4 linked regions of the Homo sapiens genome follow. The protein of the gene in region 1 interacts with the protein of each later gene in a biochemical or structural test. Each region holds a gene or a part of one and is shown on either strand. Other genes may lie near its edges. The genes, in order: DTL, CHEK1, CUL4B and KMT5A.

Region 1 (7,028 bases):
TTAAATATTAAGTCAGTCAATGAAATGAGTCCTAAAAAGATAAGTGACACTACACTGAATGTTAAAAAGAATAGATATAGGTGTCAAAAGTATTACTGTGGTGTGGCAAAATGATTATAAAAGATTGTGGAGAAGTCATAAAAATCTAGAAAGATTTTGCACTCAAATTGTTTTGTAAGTATCTAAGTTTCACTGTATTTTAAATAATCACAAAATGGAATTACAAACTGGAAATCTACTTATGGATGTTGGCAACTTTCCCATGAACAACAGCTTTATCTATAAAAAGAGGATGGCATACTGTCTAACAGGAGAGGGGAGATATTTTTGAATTGATATCCTGGAGCATGATGAAGGCTTTGGTCAATCAGGCAACAGGGCTGAGGAGTATGGACCCTGACAGGAGGGATTTTAATGGGAGTAAGTAGAGTTGCCAGATAAAATACAGCACATTCAGTTACATTTGAATTTCAGACAAACAAAAATAGTTTCTTAGCATAAAACATTTTTACTAAAAATATGGCCCATGCAAAATTTGTTTTGTATTTATGTGCTGAATTTGGCAGCACTAGGAATAAATAGATTTCTTTCTTTAAAAAAAAAAAAAAGCATCCTGACTTGAGACATCTGGGTGTCTGGCCCCTTTTAAGTTAGGAAATGTATCTTCCCACCACTGCTGACTTACCGGGCTTGGCAATTTCTTTCCGCTCTGTCTCCTGGAATTGGGTGTCTGGGATGACGGACTTCGTGGAGATGGATTCTCAGCCTTCCGTTTGGCTGCCATGGCCAACAACCAGTTTTTATTCTCTGGGGAACTATTCTCTTTGCCTACCATTTCAGACCCTTCTCCACAAGGTCTCAAAGGAAGAGGTAGCGTTCCACAGCTTTCTGAAGCATACGGACTGATAGGAGACGGAGGCTCTGAGATACTGGTACCAGCTCCTTCAATTTTGCTTGATTTGGTAGGACCTAGAGAGTCCTTACTAAGGTCTTCCTGGTTACCAGCAAGGCAGCACAGATCCAAATGAAGATTTTCAACTTGGCCATCAAGCTCAGTCACACAGTTACAACTCTTCACACACTTTTGTTTCACACTCTCCAGACAGCTTGAGTCTAGCCTCCTCTTTACTCTATTTCTAGACTCAGAGCAAGCCTCTGCTTGGGATGACTTCTGGCTCACAGGAATAAGGGCTTTTCTCGGAGACATGATCTTGGTCTCCGAAGCAGGTGGAGTGATGGGTGGTGATGAGGAAGGTGTTCGGGTCACCCAGTTTCTAATCGACATCTTGAAAGATGAAGGTGGCTTGGGAGAGACGGAGGAGACAGAGCCTCTTCTGTTGATGGGAGACCGGGCCTTGGCAGGAGAGGTTTTAATAGAGAACGTAGGAGTATTTGAAGGAAGAGGGAGGTCTCCAGCACAGCTTGGGGCACAAGCTGCGGATGACGGGGAAGAATTGGATGGATTGCACTTTGCCCTGGGGGCTTTGGCAGGAGTACTCTGGCTACTCGTTACTGTTACTGAAAAAGAGGAGAGGATCATGAAGATCAGAAGTGAAAGCCATACAAAGTCCCTAAATTCTCATCAAGAAAAATCATAGCTAACCTAATCATCTAAGGGTCAATTTGCCAGTAAGTAGGTATACATCACTTGATTCCAACCACACCCTTTTATCATTTTCCTTTCTCTTTTCCAAGTCACCAACCTCCCAACTATCCCATTATAAAATATATACTTGTAAAAATCGACAAAATACCGAAAAACATAAAGAGAAAAAATTTAAAGCACTTACGTAAACCATGTTTAGCATACTTTCTATATTTGTGCATGTGATACATACTATACATCTCAACTTTTTTCTTTACAAAAATGAGACTGATTTAAGGGGAAAGTGGCAGATAGGAGGCAGGACTAATTTGCCACTCAGACAGACAGAACAGCATGTGGAGACTCACATAGTGAACTTTGGCTCCAAGAACTATCACAGGAACATACCAGAAAAAACAAAAGAATTAACAGATCCTTTGAAAGAAGTGGCTTGCTGCTGCAAAATCCACAAGACAGCAGAAAAATTGAGTGCCCAAAGTGTGAGAGGGCTCCCGAAGCTGTGTGCTTGGTCGAAGAGGACAACCATTCCTGATAAGAGGAGAATCGGTCTTCAGTCAAGGGTATACGAGTAAATGTGCTCCCCTGCTAGAACCTCCAAACAAGCTCTCAAGGTCCAAAGTGTGAGAGGGTGGCTGGGTGTGGTGGCTCATGCCTGTAATCCCAGCACTATGGGAGGCCGAGGTGGGTGGATCACTTGAGGTCAGGAGTTCAACACTAGCCTGGCCAACATGGTGAAACCCTGTCTCTACTAAAAATACAAAAATTAGCCAGGCATGGTGGTGTGCACCTGTAGTCCCAGCTACTCAGGAGGCTGAGGCAGAAGAGTTGCTTGAACCTGGGAGGTGGAAGTTGCAGTGAGCCAAGATCGCATGCACTGCACTCCAGCCTGCCTGACAGCGAGACTCCGTTTCAAAACAAACAAACAAACAAACAAACAAACAAAAAACAGTGTGAGAGGGGTAAAGTCCACTTCTGCACACATCCTCACTGAGGATCCAGATCATGGGAGAAGGAGAACTGAAATGAATTTAGAGAGCCAAACAAAATATAAAAGTAGAAGCAGCAGCAGGAAGAGCCCTGTAGGCACTCCTGGTCCCCAGGGAAACCATTTCTGACTATCTCACAGGGGTCTTTGGAGAGGGCAGCCAATGGAATTGGGGAAGGACCATAGGGAGAAGGAGACTTTCAGCTGAACTTTGTAATGATTTCAACTGAGCGTGAATTTTCCTGGGCAGAATCTGCAGGGGGATGGGACAAATAGGAAGTGCAGATATGAGCACAGAAGCTGTGGCAGGCAGATGGACAAGGCCTAACAGCCCTGCTTGCTTTCTCGGCGGGGAGTTTTGTAGTCTAGGGCAAGATCTCCACCCTGTGCACTGGAGGCATGGATATAAATTTGGTTCTGTTGGCTGTTGGGGAAGCACTGCAGGAGTGAGACTGGCCTTGCTGGCTGTGGTCTGTCACTGCCGGCTTTCCCCTATTTCCCTGGTGATGTGTATGAAGCAGCAGAGGCAGCCATAATCTCCCTTAGAACGTAACTCCATTGGCCTGTTAACCACCACTCCCATCGCCCAGAGGCCACAGCAAGCCCTGCCCAAGGAGTCTGAGCTCAGACACACTATCCCTGCCCCCACCAGATGGTCTTTCTCTAACCGCCCTGGTAGCCGTAAACAAAAGACAAAAACTCGTGGGGCCCTGCTCATTGCCTGAGAAGCCCGAAAACCTATCCAGGAAACCGTAAGGCAAGCTTATATCCCCCGCTATACTACTGCAGTTGATACTCTCTTGAAAGTGCCACCTCCTGGCTGGAGGCCAACCAATTCAAGCCATTACAGCAATTCAACAGAACAACCCTGCTCCAAGAAAGCAGAAAATAACAGCTAATTCTACTGCCTGTAACATCTTGGCCAACCAGAGAGGTCCTGAGTCTGTCCATGTAATAACTTCAGTGCTAGTATAACTAGCATTCAAGACAACCAGTACACTAAATAAAACTACAACCAAGTACTCTCACACAGTCCACTTCACTCCTTTCCTACCACCTCCATTAGAGCAGGTGCTAGTATCCATGGCATACAGACCTGAAGACAGATCACATCACAGGACTCTTAGCAGACACTCTCCAGTACCAGCCTAGAACCCAGTAGCTCTGCTGGGTGGCTCGACCCAGAAGAGCAATAACAATCACTGCAGTCCAGCTCTCAGAAAGCCCCACCCCTAGGGAAGGGGGAGAGCACCACACCAAGGGATCACTCTGTGGGACAAAAGAATTTAAACAGCACACATTGAGTCCCAGATCTTTCTTCTGACATAGTCCACCCAAACGAGAAGGAACCAGAAAAACAATTCAGGTAATATGACAAAACAAGGTTCTATAACCACCCCTAAAAGATTATACTAGCTTACCAGCAATGGATCCAAACCAATAATAAATCTTTGAATTGCCAGAAAAGAATTTAGAAGGTCAATTATTAAGCTACTCAAGGAAGCACCAGAGAAAGATGAAAACCAACTTAAATTTAAAAATAAAACAAAACAGGATGTAGACGAAAAAAATCTCCAGAGAAATAGATATCATAAATAAAAAACAATCATGACTTCTGGAAATGAAAGACACATTTAGAGAAATGCAAAATACACTGGAAAGTTTTAACAATAGAACCAAACAAGTAGAAGAAAGAATTTTGGAGCTCAAAGACAAGGCTCTTGAATTAACCCAATTCAACAAAGACAAAGGCAAAAGAATAAAAACTTCTCTGGCCTTGCTCGAGATCTAGACATCCAAATACAAGAAGCTCAAAGAACACCCAGGAAATTCATCACAAAAAGATCATCACCTAGACACACAGTCATCAGGCTATCTAAAGTCAAGATGAAGGAAAAAATCTTAAGAGCTGGGAGGCAAAAGCATCAGGTAACCTGTAAAGGAAAAACCTATCAGATTAACAGCAGATACTCTACAAGCTAGAGGGGATAAAGGTCTTATCTTTAGCCTTATTAAATAATTATTAGCTGACAAAATAATTATCAGCCAAGAATTTTGTATCCAGTGAAACTAAGCTTCATAAATGAAGAAAAGATGAAAGTCTTTTTCAAACGCTGAGAGAATTTGCCACTACCAAGCCAGCATAGTTTACAAAAACTGCTAAAAGGAGTTCTAAATCTTAGAGCAAAACCTTGAAATACACAAAAATAGAATCTCATCTCATAGTGGGGGACTTCAATACAGTAAGTCAACATAGAAACAATGGACTTATACCCTAGAACAAATGGACTTAACAGGTATTTACAGAACATTCTACCCAACAACTGCAGAATATACATTCTATTCATCAGAACATTCATGGAACATTCTCCAAGATAGAGACCATATGATAGGCCACAAAACAAGTCTCAATAAATTTAAGAAAATCAAAATTATATCAAGTACTCTCTCAGACCATAGTGGAATAAAATTGGAAGTCAACTCCAAAGGGAATTCTTAGAACCATGCAACATTAAATAATCCGCTCCTGAATGATCTTTGGGTCAATAATGAAATCAAAATCAAGCTGGAAATTAAAAAAATTCTTTGAACTGAATGAAAAAAGTGACACAACCTAACAAAACCTCTAAGATACAGCAAAAGCAGTGCTAAGAGGAAAGTTCACAGCATTAAGTGCCTACATCAAAAAGTCTGAAAGAGCACAAATTGACAATCTAAGGTCACACCTCAAGAACTAGAGAAATAAGAACAAACCAAACCCAAACCCAGGAGGAGGAAAGATATAACAAAGACCAGAGTAGAACTTAATAAAAATGAAACAACAACAACAAAATACAAAAGATAAATGAAACAAAAAGCTGGTTCTTTGAAAAGATAAACAAAATTGATAGCCCATTAGTGAGATTAACCAAGAAAAGAAGAGAGAAGATCCAAATAAGTTCAATTAGAAATGAAACAGGAAATATTAACAACGAATACCACAGAAATACAAAAGATCATTCAAGGCTACTATGAACACATTTGTGCTCACAAACTAGAAAACCTAGAGGAGATGGATAAATTCCTGGAAATATACAACCTCCTAGATTAAACCAGGAAGAAATAAGAACTCTGAACAGACCAATAACAAGCACTTAGATTGAAATGGTAATAAAAAAATTGCCAAGAAGAAAAAGTCCAGGACCAGATGGATTCACTGCTGAATTCTATCAGACATTCAAAGAAGAACTGGTACCAATCTTACTGAAACCATTCCAAAAGAGAAAGAGGGAATACTCCCTAAATCATCCTATGAAGCCAGTATCACTCTAATACCAAAACCAGGAAAGGACATGACAAAAAAGAAAACTACAGACCAATATCCCTGATGAACATAGATGCAAAAATCCTCAACAAAATACTAGCTAACCAAATCCAACAGTATATCAAAAAGATAATCTACCATGATCAAATGGATTTCAAACCAGGGATGCAGGGAAAGTTTAATATACACAAGTCAATACATGTGATACACCATATAAACAGAATTAAAAACAAAAATCAGGCCGGGTGCGGTGGCTCATGCCTGTAATCCCAGCACTTTGGGAGGCCGAGGAGGGCAGATCACTTGAGGTCAGGAGTTTGAGACCAGCCTGGCCAACATGGTGAAACCCCATCTAAAAATACAAAAATTAGCCAGATGTGGTATCTCAGCTACTTGGGAGGCTGAGGCAGGAGAATCCCTTGAACCTGGGTGGTGGAGGTTGCAGTGAGCTGAGATGGTACCACTGCACCCCAGCCTGGGCAACAAGAGCGAAACTCTAAGAGAAAAACAAACGAAAACACATGATCACTTCAATAGAAGCAGAAAAAACGTCTGACAAAATCCAGCATCCCTTTATGATGAAAACACTCAGCAAAATCAGCATAGAAGGAACATACTTGAAGGTAATAAAAGCCATCCATGACAAACCCACAGCCAACGTTATACTGAACGGGGAAAAGTTGAAAGCATTCCCCATGAGAACTGGAAAAAGACAAGGATGCCCACTTTCACCACTTCTATTCAACATAGTAGTGGAAGCCCTAGCCAGCCACAGTCAGTCAGAAAAGAGAAATTAAAAGGCATCCAAATTGGTAAAGAGGAAGTCAACCTGTCACTGTTAGTAAATGATATGATTGTATACCTAGAAAACCCTAAAAACTCATCCAAAAAGCTCCTAGATCTGATAAATGAATTCTGTTAGGTTTCAGGATACAAAATCAATGTACATAAATCAGTAGTACTGCTATACAGCAACAGCAAACAAGCTGCAAATCAAATCAACAACTCAACCCCTTTTACAATAGCTGCAAAACCTAGGAATATACCTAACTAAGGAAGTAAAAGACCTCTACAAGGAAAACTACAAAACACTGCTAAAAGAAATCAGATGACACAAACAAATGGAAAAACAC
Region 2 (7,028 bases), on another chromosome or scaffold:
GACACTGAAGTCAATATCCAAAGAAAGTAAGAGAATAAGACATGCAAATAAGTCCCATGGGAAAAAGCATTTTCAGACATAGGAACAGTCACTACAAAAACAGTGAGGTAGAAGTGTGCCTAGAGCACTTGGAGAACAATAAGAAGAACAACAATATGACCAAGGGGGAGCAAAGCAGAACTGAGGTTGGAGAGGTAATGTAAGGAACAAAATTGTGTAAGAACTCACAGGTCATGAACTGATTTTAGCTTACACTACACGTGAGAACTAAAGCATTGGAGGATTTGGGTAGAATAGTGATATATTCTAATTCACTTTTAAATCAGAACATTTTGGAAAGATATCATGGTAATTTGGAATGATAGGGTAACAGTAGAGGTAAAAAAAAAAAAGGTAATCAGATTCTAAGATTTTTTTAAAGATAGAGGTTAACAGAATTAGCTGGTGTACTGGATGTGAAGTAAAAGAGAATGAGAAAAATGAAGGATGATTCCAAAGTTTCTGATCTGCATAATAAGAATAATGCAGTTGCCATTAACCAACATGGGAAAGACTTTGAAAAGGAATGGGTTTGAAAGGAAAAGATCAGTAACTCAGTTTGGAATTCATCAAGTGTGAGATGCCTCTTAACATTCAAGTGAAATTTCAGAAGGCAGTTAAGACATGTAAGTTTGGAATTCAGAGGAAAGGTCTAGGTTGATATAAATGTGACTATCAACATATAGTTTTATTTAGAGCCATGAAACCAAGTAATATCACTAATGGAGTGAGTGTGGAGAAGAAAACAAAGGAGATCCATAGATTCAGCCCTGGAGAACTCCAATAGTAGGAGGCTGAGCAGATGAAAAAAAACCATCAAGAGACTGAAAAGAGCGACCAGTGAGAAGGACGAAAATCAGAAGAGTGTAACGCCTGGAAGCCAAATGAAGAAAGTGTTTAAAGGAGGAGGGCATGATCAACTGTATAAAATATTGATGAGATAAAACAAGAGGTCTGAGAACTGACTACAGTAGTACCCCCCTTATCCACAGAGGGATATGTTCAAGTGGATGCCTGAAAGTACAAATGGTACCAAACCCTATATATGTTCTTTCGATCTAATAACCAAAACAGCTACTAAGGGAGTTACAAGCAGGTAGCACATGGAACGTGAATACACTGGAAAAAGGAGTGATTCACATCCCAAGTGAGATGAAGTAGGACAGCACAAGATTTTATTATGCTACTCAGAACAGCACACAATTTAAAACCTATGGCAGGGCATTGTGGCTCATGCCTATAATCCCAGTACTTTGGGAGGCCGGGGTGGGTGGATTGCTTAAGCCCAGCAGTTTGAGAACAGCTGGGATTACAGGCGTGAACCACCACACCTGGCTAATTTTTGTATTTTTGGTAGAAAAGCATAGGCAACATGGCGAAACCTCATCTCTACCAAAAATACAAAAATTAGCCGGGCATAGTGGCTCACACCTGTAGTCCCAGCTACTCGGGAAGCTGAGATGGGAGGATCATTTAAGCTCAGGAGGTAGAGGTTTCAGTAAGTGGAGACCACGCCACTGCACTCCAGTCTGGGCGACAGAGCGAGATCCCGTCTCGAATTAAATAAATAAATAAAACCCATGAATTTCTTTTTTTTTTTTTTTGAGACGGAGTCTCGCTGTTGCCCAGGCTGGAGTGCAGTGGTGCGATCTCGGCTCACTGCAAGCTCCGCCCCCCGGGGTTCACGCCATTCTCTTGCCTCAGCCTCCCGAGTAGCTGGGACTACAGGCGACCGCCACCTCGCCCGGCTAATTTTTTGTATTTTTAGTAGAGACGGGGTGACACCGTGTTAGCCAGGATGGTCTCGATCTCCTGACCTCGTGATCCGCCCGCCTTGGCCTCCCAAAGTGCTGGGATTACAGGCGTGAGCCACCGCGCCCGGCCAAAACCCATGAATTGATGAATTGTTTACTTCTGGTACTTTCCATTTAATCTTTTCAGACCTCGGTTGACCACAGTGGACTATTACATTGAACTTGGCAACACGTTCCAAAAATCACTGTGACTCTTGGCAACAAAATAGATGAAATTGAAAACTAGTTTTGAGGTGTTAGAGATGAGAAGCAATTTTAGGAATATTCAATTGTGAAGAAGATGGAATGGTAGGGAAAAGTGGAGTTAAGAGAAATTTTATTACCATTATGATTTGATTTTAAAATGGGAGAAAAAGCATGTAGATATGCTGATGAGAAAGATCCGGTAGAGAAGGAAAAATTAATAATGTAGGAGAGGGAGAAAAATTGCTAGACAAAGTCATTGAGTGGGTAAGAGAAAGACCTGGCTTACATCCAGAGCAATTTATCTACAGCAATACAGGATGAAAGAGAATACATGAGCATAGAGGCAGTTAGTATGGAGGAGATGGTGGTGGGAGCTTGCCTAAGTTCTCTTGTGGCTTTCATTTCCCAGTGACACAGGAAGCAAAGTGAACAACTGAGAGTGAGGATGGAGAGAAGATAATAAAAGTTAAGGGACCAGACACAGTAGCTCACACCTATAAACCCAGCACTTTGGGAGGCTGAGGCAGGGGGATCACTTGAGGCTAGGAGTTTGAGACCAGCCTGGCCAGCATGGCAAAACCTCTACTAAAAATATAAAAATTAGCCAGGTGTGGTGGTTCACACCTGTAATCCCAGCTACTCGGGTGGCTAAGGCACGAGAATCGAATCGCTTGAACCTGAGAGGCAGAGGTTGAAGTGAGTGGAGATGGCGCCACTGCACTCCAGCCTAGACCCTGTCTCAAAAAAAAAAAAAAAAAAAAGAGAAAAGTATTATAAAAACGTGATTTAGGAGAACAGGACAGAGAAAGATGTGGGGAAACGAAGGCCAAATGCCAGGAAGCATTAAGGGCCCACTTGAGATTAGTAATCCTGAATTTAAAGTGAACATTTTTGGGTATTTTTCTCCTGCTGCAATCTGTTGTGCAGGTACAAGTGTGCAGTACGTAGAAAACTACTAGATTAAACCCAGAAACTACTTACTGGGTTTTACCCACTAAGTATGATGAAGAGAGAAGGGGACAAGGAAATTGAAGATGATGAACGCAAAGCAGTCATTTATAATGACTAACCTAAAGATTTAAGATAGGTAAAGATGAAATCAAGGACCTAGAGAGGGAGCAGGTAAGAGACTGAAGAGATAGAATTAATTAATTGCAAGTCCAGATACAAAGGACTGTTTAAGTTAGAATATTAAGGGAGGAAGTCAGAAAAAATTATACTGGTGATCAGTGCAGCGTGTTCAAAGACAACATCACTATAGGAGAGAGGGTCAAGAAACAGTGAAGTCAGGATATCAGGAGGATGATCCAAATAAATATTTAAATCACCAAGAATCATGACGAAAATAACATCAAGAGTCATTTTGCAGACTGTGATAGTACGGCAGAAATTTTAATTTGGGGTTCAAAAGTTAGAGGGGAGAGACATAAAGGAAGATGGGAGAAAGTGACAATGAAGAATAAGGAGGACACCTGTACCATGTCCAGATCAAAGGACATGAGGGTATGGGAAAGAAAACACCTACCGCTTCAGAGGAAGCAGTGTCCTCAGGGGAGAATTGGACTTTAAGTTAGGACAAGGAGGAAGAAACATGCAGAGAGGTATTAAAGAAGAGTGAATGTTTAAACATTAACTCTTTTCTATCCATGAGGACAGAGTTAAACATTAATAACTCTCTGAATGTTTTTCATTCATCATCTCTAGTCATTGTCCTCTCTCCTTCCATTCACAGCCTAACAGTCCTATCAATACTAGTTCTTAAATTTCTTTGGAATCATCTCATTTCTCCAATACCATTGCCCTAACCTATTCCAAGCCACCAGCCTCCCACTTCTAGACAACTAGCAGAAAAACCTACAGCACCCTGAATCTTTCCCTATTCATAAAAAACAATGGAAAAAAAATAAGGAAGTCAGAGAAATATTTTTAAACCGAAGATATGACTATGTCATAGTCTTGCTTAAAATCTCTCAGAGGTCTCCCCAGTGGTCTTAAGTTAAAGCCCAAAATCCTTAACATGGCTTACAAGGTCTTCTTCCACAAATTGGCCACTAGCGACCTCTCTGGCCTCATCTCAAACCTGTCTTCCTCTCCCACTTCCCTGTTCACTCACTCAACAAATATTTAATGAGTGCCTATGGTGCACCATATACTGTGCTAAAGCACTGATGATACAATGATGAACACAACAGACACGGCTTGTGCCATACTGATCTTTCAAGTTTCTCAAAAGCATCAGACTTTCTAAAATCTAAGATTTTTCAAATACTGCTTCCCCTGTTCAGAATCAAATCTGCCACTTACTTTGCCTGCCTAGCTTCCCTTTAATCTTCAAATCTTAGATTTAATGTAATTTCTTCAGGAAGAAAAGTCTTCCCTGTCCCTTAGACTTGGTCAAACACTTAGCTATAGTACCCTGACTTTCCCCTTTATAATTATTAATAAACAAAATTATTTCTGTATTTTTTTCTACTGGACATTATAATCTCCATGAGGACAGAGATCATAGCTATCATGTGTTGTTGACTTGTGATAATAACTTTGCAATTACCTTTTCTTCCACAGAAAAACAAACAAACTTGTAGTTTAAGGATATTACCTTTCTTGAGGGGTTTGTTGTACCATCTATCTTTTTTGATGTCTGGAATGGTAATTCTTGCTGATGGATTCTCAACTAAGATTTTATGCAGCAGAGCTAAAAACAAACATTACGACAACATTCACGAAAGAATCATGTTAGAGAAGCCTATGGCTTGAGGTAAGAAACACATTTTCTGTTAGCCTACTTATGTCTAAATATTATTCCTGGGGAAGAGAAAGAATTAAAGCTACTAAATTACTGCTTTAATTTCATGCAGTTTTTCTCTGCTGCTGTATCTTGGAGTAGTCTTCCCTGATCTGATTCTCAATTGTTTGCAACTGAGAACAAGAGCCAGATGGAAATGTTTCTCCTCATGTGACGAGATTAACAAAAAGATACAGAAACCCCTCTTATCCATTTTCAATACCGAATTTCATTACTTCAATGTCATGTTCTCACGTGACCTCCTTATTCACACAGTTTTATAATGAACATTTACTTACCAATAACTTTTTAAGAGACAGTAATCTAACTAACCATCCTAAGGTATCTTAATTTTCTTGAGAAAAAATTCACGTATCTTCCTATGTGAAGATTATTTCCTAATGGACCAAAGATTTAAATGGAAAAATGAAGCCATAAAAACACTAAATGAAAACATAGGGAACTTTTAAATAGTAGAGGTAGAAGACCTTTCCAAAGAAATTATAGTCAGGGACCACAAAGGACAAGATAATAGATTTGAATGTCAATATAGCAAAACAAAATGAAAATAAATGATAAATTGTGAAAAGTATTTGTAACAAGTGCAAAGGTCAATGTGTTATCAAGGAAAAAAAAAAGCTTCAAAGTGGTAAGAAAAACAATATCCTTGACAAAAATGAGCAAAATAGACAAAAAACTAATACATACATAAAGGGTATACAACTTCATTAGTATTAAATTTAAAATAAAAATGAAAAACTATTATTTAAAGTTTTTTTCCTTAATGTAAATTGATGAGACTGTGATGAAATGGTTCGAACTTTCGGGAAGCAATTTGACAAAATAAGCCATAATAATAAAAACTACATCCTTGATCCTGCAATTTTGCTTCTGGGGATTTCAATGAACAATTTAAGGGTATGTGTCATGATTAAGTTACACAGATACTTATATCTCTTTTGTATCTGTGAAAATTTAGAAAAATCTCCAACAAAGTGATTAAAAGAGTAAAGTAAGGCATATCCACATGGCAGAATATTATCACAGCCTTTAAACCAACGATGTAGACCTACAATTATAGTCATGGAAGAATGTTCGCTGCGCACTAAAACCAAAAACAGTTACAAAATATTATTAGTGTGATCTCATTTTGTATAAAAACACATATAAATAATATACATATATTCATTTTACATACTTATGGGCCACATTAATGATGTTTCAGTCAGGAATGGACCACACGTATAACAGACAGTCCCATTAGATTATAATACTGTATTTTTACTATACTTTTTCTATACTTAGATACACAAATACCATTATGTTACAATTCCTTACAGTGCTCAGTATAGTAACATGCTGTACAGGTTTGCAGCCTGAGATCAATAGGGTATACCAAATAGCCTAGATTTATAGTAAGCTATACTATCTAGATTTATGTAAATATACTCTATGATGTTCACACAATGATGAAACCACCTAATGAAACATTTGTTAGAGTGCATCCCTATAATTAAGCAACAAACGAGTGTATTTGCAACAAAGTATAGCACATATGAAAACTTTAAGTAAAAAGCCATCTAAGAGCAGATTCAAGTTGCTCTGAATATACACTCCCCAAAATATTTTTAAAAATCTATTGCAGAGTTCTGGGACTAAAGAGTTATTTTTTCCTTAATTTTTTACTTATAGTTACTATTTTATCTACAACGAACATGAATTATTTGTAAGTTTAAAACAAAAAAAAAAGTAAGAAAAAATTCAAATAGCACAAGACTTCATATCCAAGAAATCGGTACTCTTTCACTCAAGATAATTCAGTTACCTAGAGGAGCAGAATCGATTTTTTTCCAAGGGTTGAGGTATGTTTTTTTTTCTTTCCAGTCAGAATACTCCTGACAGCTGTCACTGGGTTGGTCCCATGGCAATTCTAAAAACAAAGCAAGTCCCAGTTTTTTTAAATGTTCTTATTATAAAGATTTCAAGGAAAAATAATAATATAAATCCATGAAAAGTTTCCTTTGAATTAATTCAATATGGTTTTCACACTAAGAATCCCAACTTGGAAACTTTAGAGGCACTTCAAAGATAGATGAATCAGGATAGGCATGGCAGCTCAGGCCTGTAATCACAGCACTTTGGGAGGCTGAGGCAGAAGGACTGCTTGAGCCCAGGAGTTCAAGACCAGCCTGGGCAACATAGTG
Region 3 (6,633 bases), on another chromosome or scaffold:
TGTGAATGTACTAAATGTCAGAATTGTATACTTTATCATGGTTAGAATGGTAAATTTTGTGTGTACTTTACCACAATAAAAAATTTAAAAATTAAAGAAAAGTTTTGAAATTAGAGAACAAATGAAGAGGATCTGTTGTTGTTATAGCTGGCAAAACTATTAAGTTCTAACATGCCAGTGCAGCACATTCTTATATTTTACATCCAATAGAAACGGTTTTACAAAAGAAAGGTCAGAGTCTTTTTCACTATGCTAGAGATGACTTCTAAGGATTGTTAAACATAAAGGTACATTATGTGTCCATTCAAAAGAAGAAATACCCTTTTTTATAATAGCAAGGGGAAAAAGGAAAATAATTGAGCAAAGTGTTTGATTTCAACCAAGTGTTTGCAGGTGAACAAACTTCAGTATTCAAATGTAAAGCAGGTGTTTTTTTGTAGGACACTGAAAAATATTCATTAATGAAGCATTAGCAAGATATCATTTTACAAAGCATAATTATGCAAATTTTCATCAGTACTGCTCTTTTCTTTTTAATGAACAATTTGTTTTGGCAATTTTATGTAAATAAGAGAATAGAACACGCTCACAACACTCCTGCCATTCACAGCATTAAACAGAGTGGTCATGAAAACAAAGACCAGCTCATTTTAAAAGATTTATGAATATCCAGATTAAAAAACAAACTTCTCAAATCTTTAGATCCAGATGCCCAGATAAACTGGTTTTCTGAACTGTACACTCACATACACAGCAAAAATTTCAAGAGTATGGCTAGACATCATATTAAGACCATTCAAGCAGACTCAGGAACTGGGTTCAAAAACTTTGAGGAACATCTTACTCTGAGAGTATCTGGCCCAGAACTCAAAAAACTATTAACAGAAAAGGCAGAGCAAATGCCATAACTAAGAGTAATCTTTTCTTCTCCCCTGAACTCAAATCTAGACTCATTTCATATTGACTTTATGAAACAATTTGACACTGAGGATTTGAATGAAGCAATGTTTATACTTGTATCCGCATGTTTAAGAATAATTATCCACCTTGAGGATTCCTGGGAATTTTCCTCACCCTGTTAACCATGCCCTCCCCCATACTCTTATAGCATTACCACAAAACCATTACAAAATTTTTAAAAAGTTTAAAAATAACAAAATCAACAAATGTGAGTTCATTAGAAGTTGTTAGGAAGATTTTAAGTCCTGTGATTTTATAACTTTCTTACAATACTTGAATTTTAAAGATCTTCTCTAGAAACTTTTTTTAAATAAAAGTTTTATTGGAGAAAAATAGAACCACCACGTACACAGGGAAAAGAGCACAAAAATTCAACTGATACAGAACAACAACTGAAAGTCACAATTATCCAATGTAGTTTGCAATTACTTTTCAGTTTCTTAAACAGCTCCCCTCAACTTTTTTTTTTTAACAGTCTTGCTAATTTTTCAGCTGAAACAGCATCAAGTTTTCAAAGAATTAAGAGCCTCGGGGAGGGGACCCGCTTTCAAGATACTGAAGGTGACATCAAGAGTCTCCTCCTAACAGGACCAACTCTATCTAAAAGTTGCTTACGAGTAACTTGAATCTTGTGTAATAGTCTACATCTCACAGACCATCAGGGATGAGTTAGAACACTGTTGTTGATGGTCCGGTATGAAGAGAGGGTAAACAAAATAGCTGCATTTGCTTGTCAGCTGAGCTCATATAAAGAAATCAGTGAGGAGCTGAGAAAATATAGGCAATGGCTGCTCAATAAGAATTACAAGTTCCGAATACCACATATAGTTAGACACCAGTGTGCAAGTTGATGCAACTAGAAAGAAATAGACGACTTTTTAAAATACCTGGCCACAGGTCTTTGAGAACTCAAGCAAACAATCAACAGTAGACACAAGAGTCAAAAATCTTCTCAGGTTGAAGATTAGGACATAGGTAATCTTCCTAACGGCTCCAACAGGCAAGGAAATATGCTGTGGCAAAAAGCATTAAGTAGTTCTGATTTTTAACAAACATAAACAAAATTTTCTGCTTCTCCTCCCTTCAAAGCTTCAAGGAAATAGAAACAAGGAAACAAAATAAAAACAAAAAAAAATCAGTGACAGTAAAGAGAAGCCTTTGCTTGAATTATCAATTCGAAAAACAGTACTTTTGCCATTTTGTATATATAAACAATCTTGGGACATTCTCCTGAAAACTAGGTGTCCAGTGGCTAAGAGAACTCGATTTCAAGCAATTCTGAAAGGAAAACCAGCATGACACAGAATCTCAAATTCCCAAACAGGGGCTCTGTGGGAAAAATGAGGGAGGACCTTTGTATCTAGGGTTTTAGCAAGTTAAAATGAAGATGACAGGAAAGGCTTATTTATCAACAAAGAGAAGAGTTGGGATGCTTCTAAAAAAAACTTTGGTAGAGAAAATAGGAATGCTAAATCCTAGGAAGCCTGTAACAATCTACAATTGGTCCAAGTTGAAGACAAAACTGTCCAAACAACATTTAAAGTCTAAAGTATGTTGAAAACTAGTTGCAAAGTTTTTGCTCCTGTAACAATTTACAAAACACGTTCATTTTGGTCTCTTTTGCAATTTTCTTATTGTATTCATTTTTAATATAAAGAGTTGGATTTTTCTCTTCTATGATGTTCCTCTAGTACAACTGATCATTAATTTTCTACTTTAGCTATTTTTATAAGTACTTGTTAATCAGCACAGTTAACTTGGGGCTAAGCCATATACACACATCCCATACTCATAAATGAAAATTTTTAGGATGTGAATATACAAGATATTATGTAAGCAACTGTCCCCCTACTTGAAAACTTGTTTCCAAATAATTTTTTTTAAAAAACATCCCTTTCAGTGTAACAGAACATCACCTAGTAAAATATCAATAGCTATGACAATTCATTTCTCTTTTCAAGGGAAATCACAAAACGGGTGAACAACCAAGTCAAGGGTGGTTTTTCTATTTGATAAATACATCCAGAACTCTGTACAGTAAATAAAGTTTGCATGCAGTTTAAGTATCTTTAAATGACATTTTAAGCAAATAAACCTTTTGCTTCATAATTAATGGTGTGTAAGAACCCTCCCCCCTTTTTAATAGCCACAGGGATCTCTTTCCCAGTTCCAAAGAGGAATTCATGAAGACCAGGTACGTTCTTAAGTGTTTTCTGCACATCATACTAAATAACATGCAAAGAGTTCAACAACATTCTTCTTAAAGGTAAGTATTACTCTTTAAAATGGGCATGTTAACCACTGAGAAAAAGTCCACTCAACTATTTCCATTAATTACACTGCTTCATTTGGTCATCGGTAGTAAAAAAGGAGTCAAATAATATTGAATCAACAGGTTAGTTTATCCACTGGCTACTGCATATGACACCAAATGCTGCAAGGCCAACATTCTATGCAATATAGTTGTACTGGTTTGGATTTTCTTTATCTCTTTCCATGTAGTCCCGGTCAATTAAAGATTCTATTCTCTTCTTAAGATCAGCAGGCTGTAAGAGAAGGCAAATTTTCAATGTAAAGTTCATTATCATTGGCTCAAGCCCATTTAGTTAATACCCCATTAAAAAGACAACAGTTTCGGCTCATGAATTTAATCTCCTTTTTTAAAATTTTTATTTATTTAAATCTCTTTTTTAGAGAAAAGTATCATGAAAATAAACCAGGTTAAAAAATGTTTTATACACGTTGAAGATTCTTTTTTTTTTTTTTTGAGACGGAGTCTCGCTCTGTCACCCAGGCTGGACTGCAGTGGCACCACTTTGGCTCACTGCAACCTCCACCTCCTGGGTTCAAGTGATTCTTCTGCCTCAGCTTCCCGAGTAGCTGGGACTAGACACAAGCCACCACGCCTGGCTAATTTTTGTATTTTTGGTAGAGATGGGGTGTCACCATATTGGCCAGGCTGGTCTTGAACTCCTGACCTCAGGTGATCCACCTGCCTCAGCCTCCCAAAGTGCTGGGATTACAGGGATGAGCCACCGTGCCCAGGTATGTTGAAGATTCTTTAACGCCAAAAGTGTTTTTGATTTTTGATTTTTTTTTGGAGCTTTTAATTTTTTTAATAGACAGGGTCTTGCTATGTCGCCCAGGCTGACCTTAAACTCTTGTTCTGGAGTAATCCCCCCAGCCTCAGCCTCCCAAAGTACTGGAATCCCAGTACTCACAGGTGTGAGCTACCATGCCTGGTCCTGACTTTTTCATTTTGGTATATTTGCATATACATAGTGAGATACCATGGAGATGGGACCCAAGTCTAAACACAAAATTCATCTATGTTTCATACATACCTTACATAGCCTGAAGATAATTTTATACCTTTTGTGCATGAAACAAAGTTTTGACTGCAACCTGTCAAATGAGGTAAAGTGTGGAATTTTCCACCTGTGGCATCATGTTGGCATTCAAAGTTTCCAATTTTAGAGCATTTCAGATTTTGGATTCTCATTAAAGGTGTTCAACCTGTACTATATACTATACATACATTAAACTGTCACATCCTTGTCATATTGTTACGGAATACTTTCTATTACTTTTCTATTTTAAAGAGGTCATGCCAGAAGCAGCTACCCTTCGCGTGGTTAAATACAAAAGACTACATTTATTGTAACTTCACATGAGCACTGTAAGGTAGTTTAAGGACACAGAATACTAGTTTTGTCAAGATAGTTCATGAAGCACACCTTTACTTTGGGCAAGAGTTAGTTGGCTTCATTTTTATAAATTAAGATTTAAAACGTACTGATGAAATCACTATTTAGACCGGGTGTGGTGGCTCATGCCTGTAATCCCAGCACTTTGGGAGGCTAAGATGGGTGGATCACCTGAGGTCAGAAGTTTGAGACCAGACTGGCTAACATGGCAAAACCCCATCTGTACTAAAAATACAAGAATTAGCCAGGTGTGGTGGTGGGCGCCTGTAGTCTCAGCTACCAGGGAGACTGAGGCAGGAGAATTGCTTGAACCCGGGAGGTGGAGGTTGTAGTGAAACGTGATCGCGCCACTGCACTCCAACCTGGGTGACAGAGCAAGAAGACTCCATCTCAAAAAAAAAAAAAATCACTATTTAAAAGAATACTGGACAGGTGCAGTGGCTCATGCCTGTAATCCCAGCACTTTGGGAGGCTGTGGGCAGATCATGAGGTCAGGAGTTCGAGACCAGCCTGACCAATATGGTAAAACCCCGTCTCTACTAAAAACACAAAAATTAGCCAGGCGTGATTGTGCGCACCTGTGGTCCCAGCTACTCGAGAGGCTGAGGCAAAAGAATTGCTTGAACCCGGGAGGCAGACGCTGCAGTGAGCCAAGATCATGCCACTGCACTCCAGCCTGGATGACAGAGCGAGACTCCATCTCAAAAAAAAACTACATGAAATGGCTTGATAAATGAAGTACCTCATAATTTAGATCTTCATATTTCTGGTTTAGTGCATCTAAGTGACTTGGATTTCTGCATCCTGTGATTTAAAAGTAATCAAGAAAGCTTGTAGCTTTATCTTCATGATTGCATTCTAAGCTCCTGGATGACAAAATTCCACTATATATCTTATGTATCTAGTCTGTAAATATAATATAATCTTGTTTGCTAATAGAAAGTTTTTCAGGATAAGTAAAATGACCACTTGTTCAAGAGGGGAAAAGAGGGGAAGTAGTCTGATACAGCAGTGAAAATTTTATCCAGTAATCCCAAGGTTGGGAAATCAGATGACTTCTCTTAATTATGGTGAAAGACCTAGAATATCAGCACAATATTAACTACAGCGATCCCCTAATTTCCCCAGCATCAGTGATCTCTCTGGCTTGAGGTGAAATGACTATTAAGCAGAGCATGAGGGTGAGAGGGTGGTAATGAGGAGTGCGATATTAGGTTTGGAGAAAAGAAAATGCTTACCTTATTAGAACTAAGAGCTACCGAGTGCTTATTATGTACCAGGTCCAGTGCTAAGATTTTTACATTCATGATCTCACTTAAACCTCACAATAATCCTACAAGGTAAGTACTATTATTATCTCAGTTTTACAAAAGAGGAAACAAGATCAGCATGGTGAAGTGATTTATGAAAGTCCAAAGCTCATAAGAACCCTAATAGCTAGCAGTCTATTCAAACTCTATCAATGTTTATCATCCAAGGGTTTGGCTATCTACCTCCTAAAACTTGGAAAAAAGGCCAGTACAACATCACATTAAGTGACTTTATTATTGGTCATTCACAATGGAACGTTTCCATTTAATGACCAATTTCAGTTTACCAGAACTATCACTACACTTTTCAAAAAGATGCTTAATCATGACTAGTTATCTGTATGGTTTTTAACAGATGATCTCTTATATAAGCTAACTAAACAGGAGATTTAACTCAATCCACAATAACTAAATCTGTCAAATACCATGGTATTTCAATAAATACCATGGTATTTCAAGAGGAAAAGAAGTAAATAACCAACCAAGAAGTTCAAAAGAAATATAGTGAATAAACTTGAAAATTTCAAACACTCATTTAGCAGTTAAACTTTCAGGTATCCAGGCTTTTCTGTTATTTTTCCCTTTTGTCACTGCTGCCCACATATGCCAACAAAGTTTTTTTTTTTGGAAATCATATGCATCAACATGGGAAATTA
Region 4 (7,028 bases), on another chromosome or scaffold:
GTTGTTTTTTTTAAATCTATTCCACCAATATATATCTTTCTTTTTTTTTTTTTTTTTTTTTTGAGATGGAGTCTTGCTCTGTTGCCAAGGCTGGAGTGCAGTGGCGCGATCTTGGCTCACTGCAAGCTCCGCCTCCCGGGCTCACACCATTCTCCTGCCTCAGCCTCCCGAGTAGCTGGGACTACAGGTGCCCACCACCATGCCCGGCTAATTTTTTGTATTTTTAGTAGAGATGGGGTTTCACCATGTTAGCCAGGATGGTCTCGATCTCCTGACTTCGTGATCCGCCCGCCTCGGCCTCCCAAAGTGCTGGGATAACAGGTGTATATCTTTCTTTTTTTTTTAACCTTCTTGACCCTTATCTTTCATATCTTTTAAGTGGAACATTTTAGTCCATTTATGTTTAAGGTTAATATTGATATGTGAGGTTTTGTTAGGTATATTACTATTAAATAAGTTTATGGGAAGGTTTTTTTTTGTTTTTTGTTTCTTTTTGAGATGGAGTCTTGCTCTGTCTCCCAGGCTGGAGTGCAGTGGTGCGATCTTGGCCTACTGCAAACTCCACCTCCTGGGTTCAAGCGATTCTCCTGCCTCAGCCTCCTGAGTAGCCGGGATTACAGGTGTGTGCCACCACGCCCAGCTAATTTTTGTGTTTTTAGTAGAGACGGGGTTTCGCCATGTTGGCCAGGCTGGTCTCAAACTCGTAACCTCAAGTGATCCACCCACCTCAGCCTCCCAAAGTGCTGGGATGACAGACGTGAGCCACCATGCCTGGTCATGTTTTCTGTTTTTTTTTAAGACAGGGTCTCACTCTGTTGCCCAGGCAGGAGTGCAGTGTCACAGTCATGACTCACTGCAGCCTCAACCTCCTGGGCTCCAGCAATCCTCCTCCTTCCTCAGCCTCTAGAGTAGCTGGGACCAAAGGTGTACGCCACCACACCTAGCTTATTTATTTTTTGTAGGGACAGGGTCTGGATCTGTTGCTTAGGCTGGTCTCTAACTCCTGTCCTTAAGCGATCCTTCCTCCTGGCTTTCCTGAAGTGTTGGGATTACAGGAGAGAGCCACTGCCCCTGGCCTCATTTACATTTTAAAAGACCCCTCTGGCTACCTTGTGGAGAACTGAGTGTTCCCTGGGGTCAGAGTGAAAGCCTGGTGACTAGCAAGGGGGCCGGAGCGGGGCCGGGGCCGTGGCTGGGCTGCAGGGCCGCAGTGGGAATGGAGATGGAGAGGAGGTGGCAGGATTTGGGACTGTCCTTGAGGTTACTCATTCACCATTGTTCCCAGCACAGACTGCAGCGCCTGGCACATTGCAGGTGTGGATTGAGTGCCTGGAAAAGCTGCAAGCTGGTTTGGGCCTCTGTGTAGGGGGAATGGGCTGAGCTCAGCAGTTGGTGTCAGGCTCCTGACACGTGCCATCTGGTTTGGTGAAAGTCTATGCCGTCAAGACATGCTGGTTTGGGGTGAGCCACACTGGTTTGGAGCTTCCGATCTGTCTTCATTTGGTTCCCTTTTGCTCTGTAGTATCTGTGCAGTGGCAGAGCAGTAGAACCCAGGGTTAGGGATGGAGGTAGGTGCAGGAGGGGTGGCCTTAGAGGAGAGGTGGATCCAGGGGTGCCCCCTCCCAGTTCTCTGTTCAGGTCTGTATTGACCCTCGGGATTGGAGGCCCTCTTCTCATCCATCGTGGTGGCCTCCATACAGGTGAATCTCAGCGATCCCAAACAGAAGTATGAGCCATCAGACCAGAGCCATGTGGACTGCGTGTGTCCCATCCAAAGGGCACAGCCTCTGATCTGCTGTACCCGATTTTCTTTTTTCTTTTTAAGGTGGAGTCTTGCTGTGTCGCCCAGGCTGGAGTGCAGTAGCACAATCTTGGCTCACTGCAACCTCCACCTCCCAGGTTCAAGCGATTCTCCTGCCTCAGCCTCCCGAGTAGCTGGGACTACAGGCTCCTACCACACCTGGCTAATTTTTGTATCTTTAATAGAGACAGGGTTTTACCTATTTGCCAGGCTGGTCTCGAACTCGTGACCTTACGATCCGCCCGCCTCGGCCTCCCGAAGTGTTGCGATTACAGGCGTGAGCCACCGCGCCTGGCCCACTGTACCTGATTTTCTGTGAAGTCAGAGGCCTGATTTTCAGGTGTGGGCAAGTTGGACATTTTTTAACGTGCTGCATGGGCAACAGAACATATCTACGAGCCCCATTCTGTTCTTGGGTCCCCACTGTTTCCCTCCTGATCCAGTTGAACCCCAGGTGACAGATCTTCCACAACAGATGGGTGATGAGAAAAGGAGGGATACTTGGGGGCTTTGCCATCACTGGGGACCCATCATCCCCAGTGATGCCAAATGAGGCCGATTGTGGCCCGGTGGGCATGGCCTGGGCAATCAGGGCTCAAGACCATCAAGCTACGCACGATGGGCCTAGGAGAAGATACTGATGCTGTTTTTCTTTCTCTCTGCCCAGTCTGAAGAAAGGAAAAGAATAGATGAATTGATTGAAAGTGGGAAGGAAGAAGGAATGAAGGTAAGGGGCTGCTGTGCTTGCTGCATCATAGCTAAAGCTGGAAGAGCTCACCTTCCCTGGTCCCGTGGCTGAGAGTGGCCACCATGTGGCTTTCACCCTCTAATGGCCATGGTGACCAGGCAGACTCTATTAGGTTGTCAAAGAGCCAAATACCAAAAGTTGTTAAGGAAATGTCTTATGAAGGAAACATAAATGGGCTTTGTATATAAATGTTATCCAGGGGAAGCTTTTCTTAGAAATTGTGGTTAAACAATTCAGTGGCTTTTTGTACATTCACAATGCAATGCAACCATTATCCCTGTCTAATTTCAGAATTTTTTCATCCTCCCAAATGGAAACCCTTACCCATTACTTACCACTGCCCACCATCCCCACCTCTCCCCTGCCCAGCCCCTGGCAGCCACTCAGCTGCTTTCTGTCTCAGTGGAGTTGCTCTTCTGGGCACTTCATATAAATCGGATTATACAATATGTAGCTGATGCCCAGGGAAACTTTTAAAAGGAGAAACTAATACATTTTTAAACTGTTTTCCTAGATAATGACAATGCCCAAGAAATGTGCTTTTCTCTTACTGTATTTCAACCACACTCAGTTTGGGCGAGAGGAGAAGTACTCTCTACAGTGGGGTTCAGATGGGCCTAGACTAGGGCTCCGGGTTCAGAAAGCTTCCACTTCCACCCACCACCTAGGGGGATTCCGGCTTAAGTCCTGGGCCCCTCCAGCAACCCCATTCAACTCCATGTAGAATAGAGTGAGGAGACACAGGAGAGAAATCGTGGAATGAGGTAGAGACCCAGAACACTGGGCCTGCTGTTTGCCTAGGAAGGCATAGCGCATAGCCCCTAGACAGAGAAACCAGGTGTGTGGATTTGAGCTGTGTCACTGTCTAGCTGTGTGGCCTCAGACACGTGGTTGTGCCTCTTTAAGCCTCAGTTTCCTCATCTACAAAATGGGGCAGTCTCCACCTAGCAGATCTCTCACGAGCTCTGATGTAACTGCTTTGCAGATGAGCACCAAGGAACCACGTTTGTGGAGTGAGGGAACGTTCTAGAGCTGGCCTGTAGTGACGGTTGCACAGCTGTATACACTTCATAAAACCCATCAGCCTGTACATGTAAAGTGAGTGAATTTTATGACATGGCTCAGTACAGCTGTTAAAGACTGGGGTAAGCCCCAGCTCCCCGGAGACCTGCTGTGCACAGTGGCATCCATTGCTATTATGAACCAACACCCTCTCTTATCACCTGACAGATTGACCTCATCGATGGCAAAGGCAGGGGTGTGATTGCCACCAAGCAGTTCTCCCGGGGTGACTTTGTGGTGGAATACCACGGGGACCTCATCGAGATCACCGACGCCAAGAAACGGGAGGCTCTGTACGCACAGGACCCTTCCACGGGCTGCTACATGTACTATTTTCAGTATCTGAGCAAAACCTACTGGTGAGTCCACTGTTGCTTAGAGTGGCTTTTCTGTCCTCTGGGCAGTGAGGAGAGGCCAAAGGGCCAGGAACTCCTGATTCTGTTTGGTGGCCAGTCTTTTGGTTTTGTTGTTGTTGACTTTTTTTTTTTTATTTTTTGAGATGGAGTCTTGCTCTGTTGCCCAGGCTGGAGTGCAGTGGTGTGATCTCGGCTCATTGCAACCTCCTCTCAGGCTCAAAGAATTCTCCTCCCTCAGCCTCCAGAGTAGCCCAGCTAATTTTTTTTTTCTGTATTTTTAGTAGAGGTGGAGTTTTGCCACATTGGCCAAGCTGGTCTTGAACTCCTGACCTCAGACGATCCACCCGCCTTGGCCTTCCAAAGTGCTAGGATTACAGGTGTGAGCCACTGCGCTCGGGCTGTTGTTGCCTTTTTTCAAAGCTGTGATGCAATTATCGCCTGCTTCCTTTTTTTTTTTTTTTTTTTTTTTTTTGAATCTCGATCTGTCGCCCAAGCTGGAGTGCAGTGGCACAATCTTGGCTCACTGCAACCTCCACCTCCCGGGTTCAAGGTATTCTGTCTCAGCCTCCCACGTAACTGGGATTACAGGTGTGCGTCACCACGCCCAGCTAATTCTTATATATTTTTTTAGTAGAGACAGGGTTTCATTATGTTGGCCAGGCTGGTCTGACCTCATATGGTCTGCCTGCCTTAGCCTCCCAAAGTTCTGGGATTACAGATGTGAGCCACTGCGCCTGGCCCCAGCTTCCCTTTTTTTTTTTCTTTTGAGACGGAGTCTCGTTCTGTCACCCAGGCTGGAGTGCAGTGGTGCAATCTTGGCTTACTGCAACCTCCACCTCCCAGGTTCAAGCGATTCTCCTGCCTCAGCCTCCTGAGTAGCTGGGACTACACACACATGCCACCATGCCTGGCTAATTTTTTGTATTTTTAGTAGAGATGGAGTTTCACTGTGTTAGCCAGGATGGTCTCAATCTCCTAACCTTGTGACCTGCCCACCTTGGCCTCCCAAAGTGCTGGGATTACAGGCATGAGCCACTGTGGCCCCAGCTTCCCATTTTTAATCTTTGGAATTGGAGCTGTCCTGGATGTTATCTCATCCAAGGGGAGAAGTGGGCTAGTCACATGAAAACCTGTTAAGCAGCTCACCTGGCTCTCCTTCAGGGCATTTGGCCAGAGCAGCTCTGGAAATCACTAATTGATCTTGCCTGGCTAGGACCAGTGGAGTTGAATTTTTTATTTTTTATTTTATTTTATTTTTTTGAGATGGAGTTTCACTCTTGTTGTCCAGGCAGGAGTGCAGTGGCACGATCTTGGCTCACTGCAACTTCCACTTCCGAAGTTTAAGCAATTCTCCTGCCTCAGCCTCCCAAGTAACTGGGATTACAGGCATGCGCCACCACGCCCAGCTAATTTTGTATTTTTAGCACAGACAGCGTTTCACCATGGTGGCCAGGCTGGTTTTGAAATCCTGACCTCAGGTAATCCACCCGCCTCAGCCTCCGAAAGTGCTGGGATTACAGGCGTGAGCCACCGCGCCTGGCGGGGTTGATTTTTTTAATCCATTTATTTTGTGAAACTCTACCATTTCCTCCTGTGCCTCCATAAAGAGCCCTTTGGGTCCTACCCCATCCCCCCACCCAGGGCCTGTGCAGGCTCTCAAAAATAGCTTTGTGGGCCAGGCGTGGTAGCTCATGCCTGTGATCCCAGCACTTTGGGTGGCCGAGGTGGATGGATCATGAAGGTCAGGAGCTCCAGACCAACATGGCAAAACCCCATCTCTACTAAAAATACAAAAAAATTAGCCTGGCATGGTGGCACACGCTTCTAATCCCAGTGACTCAGGAGGCTGAGGCAGAATTGCCTTACCCCGGGAGGCAGAGGTTGCAGTGAGCTGAGATCGTGCCACTGCACTCCAGCCTGGGCGACAGAGCGACGAGACTCCCTCTCAAAAAAAAAAAAAAAAAAAAAAAAGCTTTGCAAATTGAGCCAGACCTGGTGGCTCGTGCTTGTAATCTCAAAAACTCAGGAGGCCAAGGCCAGAGGATCACTTGAGCCCAGGGGTTGGAGACCAGCCTGAGCAATATAGGGAGATCTTGTCTCTACAGAAACAATTAAAAATTAGCCTGATGTGGTGGCATGTACCTGTGGTCAAAGCTACTCGGGAGGCTGAGGTAGGAGGATGACTTGAGCCCGGGAGGTGGAGGCTGCAGTGAGCCGTGATCGTGCCACTGCACTCCAGCCTGGGTTACGGAGCGAGACCCCCTCTAAAAAGGAAAAAGAAAATAGCTTTATGAATTGAATCTTTTCAAAACACATGGCTTTAAATCAGCATCCCACCAGAGCTGAGCACAAGTGTGACTCTCTTCAGGTTGAAAAGCCTCTTTATCCATTTAATCCTCTCTGGCCCTCCTTCCCCTCCAGCGTGGATGCAACTAGAGAGACAAATCGCCTAGGAAGACTGATCAATCACAGCAAATGTGGGAACTGCCAAACCAAACTGCACGACATCGACGGCGTACCTCACCTCATCCTCATCGCCTCCCGAGACATCGCGGCTGGGGAGGAGCTCCTGTATGACTATGGGGACCGCAGCAAGGCTTCCATTGAAGCCCACCCGTGGCTGAAGCATTAACCGGTGGGCCCCGTGCCCTCCCCGCCCCACTTTCCCTTCTTCAAAGGACAAAGTGCCCTCAAAGGGAATTGAATTTTTTTTTTACACACTTAATCTTAGCGGATTACTTCAGATGTTTTTAAAAAGTATATTAAGATGCCTTTTCACTGTAGTATTTAAATATCTGTTACAGGTTTCCAAGGTGGACTTGAACAGATGGCCTTATATTACCAAAACTTTTATATTCTAGTTGTTTTTGTACTTTTTTTGCATACAAGCCGAACGTTTGTGCTTCCCGTGCATGCAGTCAAAGACTCAGCACAGGTTTTAGAGGAAATAGTCAAACATGAACTAGGAAGCCAGGTGAGTCTCCTTTCTCCAGTGGAAGAGCCGGGACCTTCCCCCTGCACCCCCGACATCCAGGGACGGGGTGTGAGGAAGACGCTGCCT

What was found.
Region 2: of the proteins of DTL (region 1) and CHEK1, one has a biochemical effect on the other in vitro, tested with the Homo sapiens proteins (2 studies listed by BioGRID).
Region 3: the proteins of DTL (region 1) and CUL4B form a complex in vitro, tested with the Homo sapiens proteins (2 studies listed by BioGRID).
Region 4: the proteins of DTL (region 1) and KMT5A form a complex in vitro, tested with the Homo sapiens proteins (2 studies listed by BioGRID, with this or other methods).

Annotation. Positions count from the first base shown.
Region 1 is NC_000001.11:212,094,742-212,101,769, reverse strand, and holds part of DTL (denticleless protein homolog), read right to left. Parts: intron 1,519-7,028; coding exon 686-1,518; intron 1-685. UniProt on the Homo sapiens protein: Substrate-specific adapter of a DCX (DDB1-CUL4-X-box) E3 ubiquitin-protein ligase complex required for cell cycle control, DNA damage response and translesion DNA synthesis.
Region 2 is NC_000011.10:125,635,155-125,642,182, reverse strand, and holds part of CHEK1 (serine/threonine-protein kinase Chk1), read right to left. Parts: intron 6,755-7,028; coding exon 6,650-6,754; intron 4,735-6,649; coding exon 4,639-4,734; intron 1-4,638. UniProt on the Homo sapiens protein: Serine/threonine-protein kinase which is required for checkpoint-mediated cell cycle arrest and activation of DNA repair in response to the presence of DNA damage or unreplicated DNA.
Region 3 is NC_000023.11:120,523,351-120,529,983, forward strand, and holds the end of CUL4B (cullin-4B), read right to left. Parts: intron 3,507-6,633; coding exon 3,411-3,506; 3' UTR 508-3,410; downstream 1-507.
Region 4 is NC_000012.12:123,401,105-123,408,132, forward strand, and holds part of KMT5A (N-lysine methyltransferase KMT5A), read left to right. Parts: intron 1-2,468; coding exon 2,469-2,528; intron 2,529-3,534; exon of another isoform or gene 3,535-3,647; intron 3,648-3,779; coding exon 3,780-3,970; intron 3,971-6,388; coding exon 6,389-6,599; 3' UTR 6,600-7,028. UniProt on the Homo sapiens protein: Protein-lysine N-methyltransferase that monomethylates both histones and non-histone proteins. Specifically monomethylates 'Lys-20' of histone H4 (H4K20me1).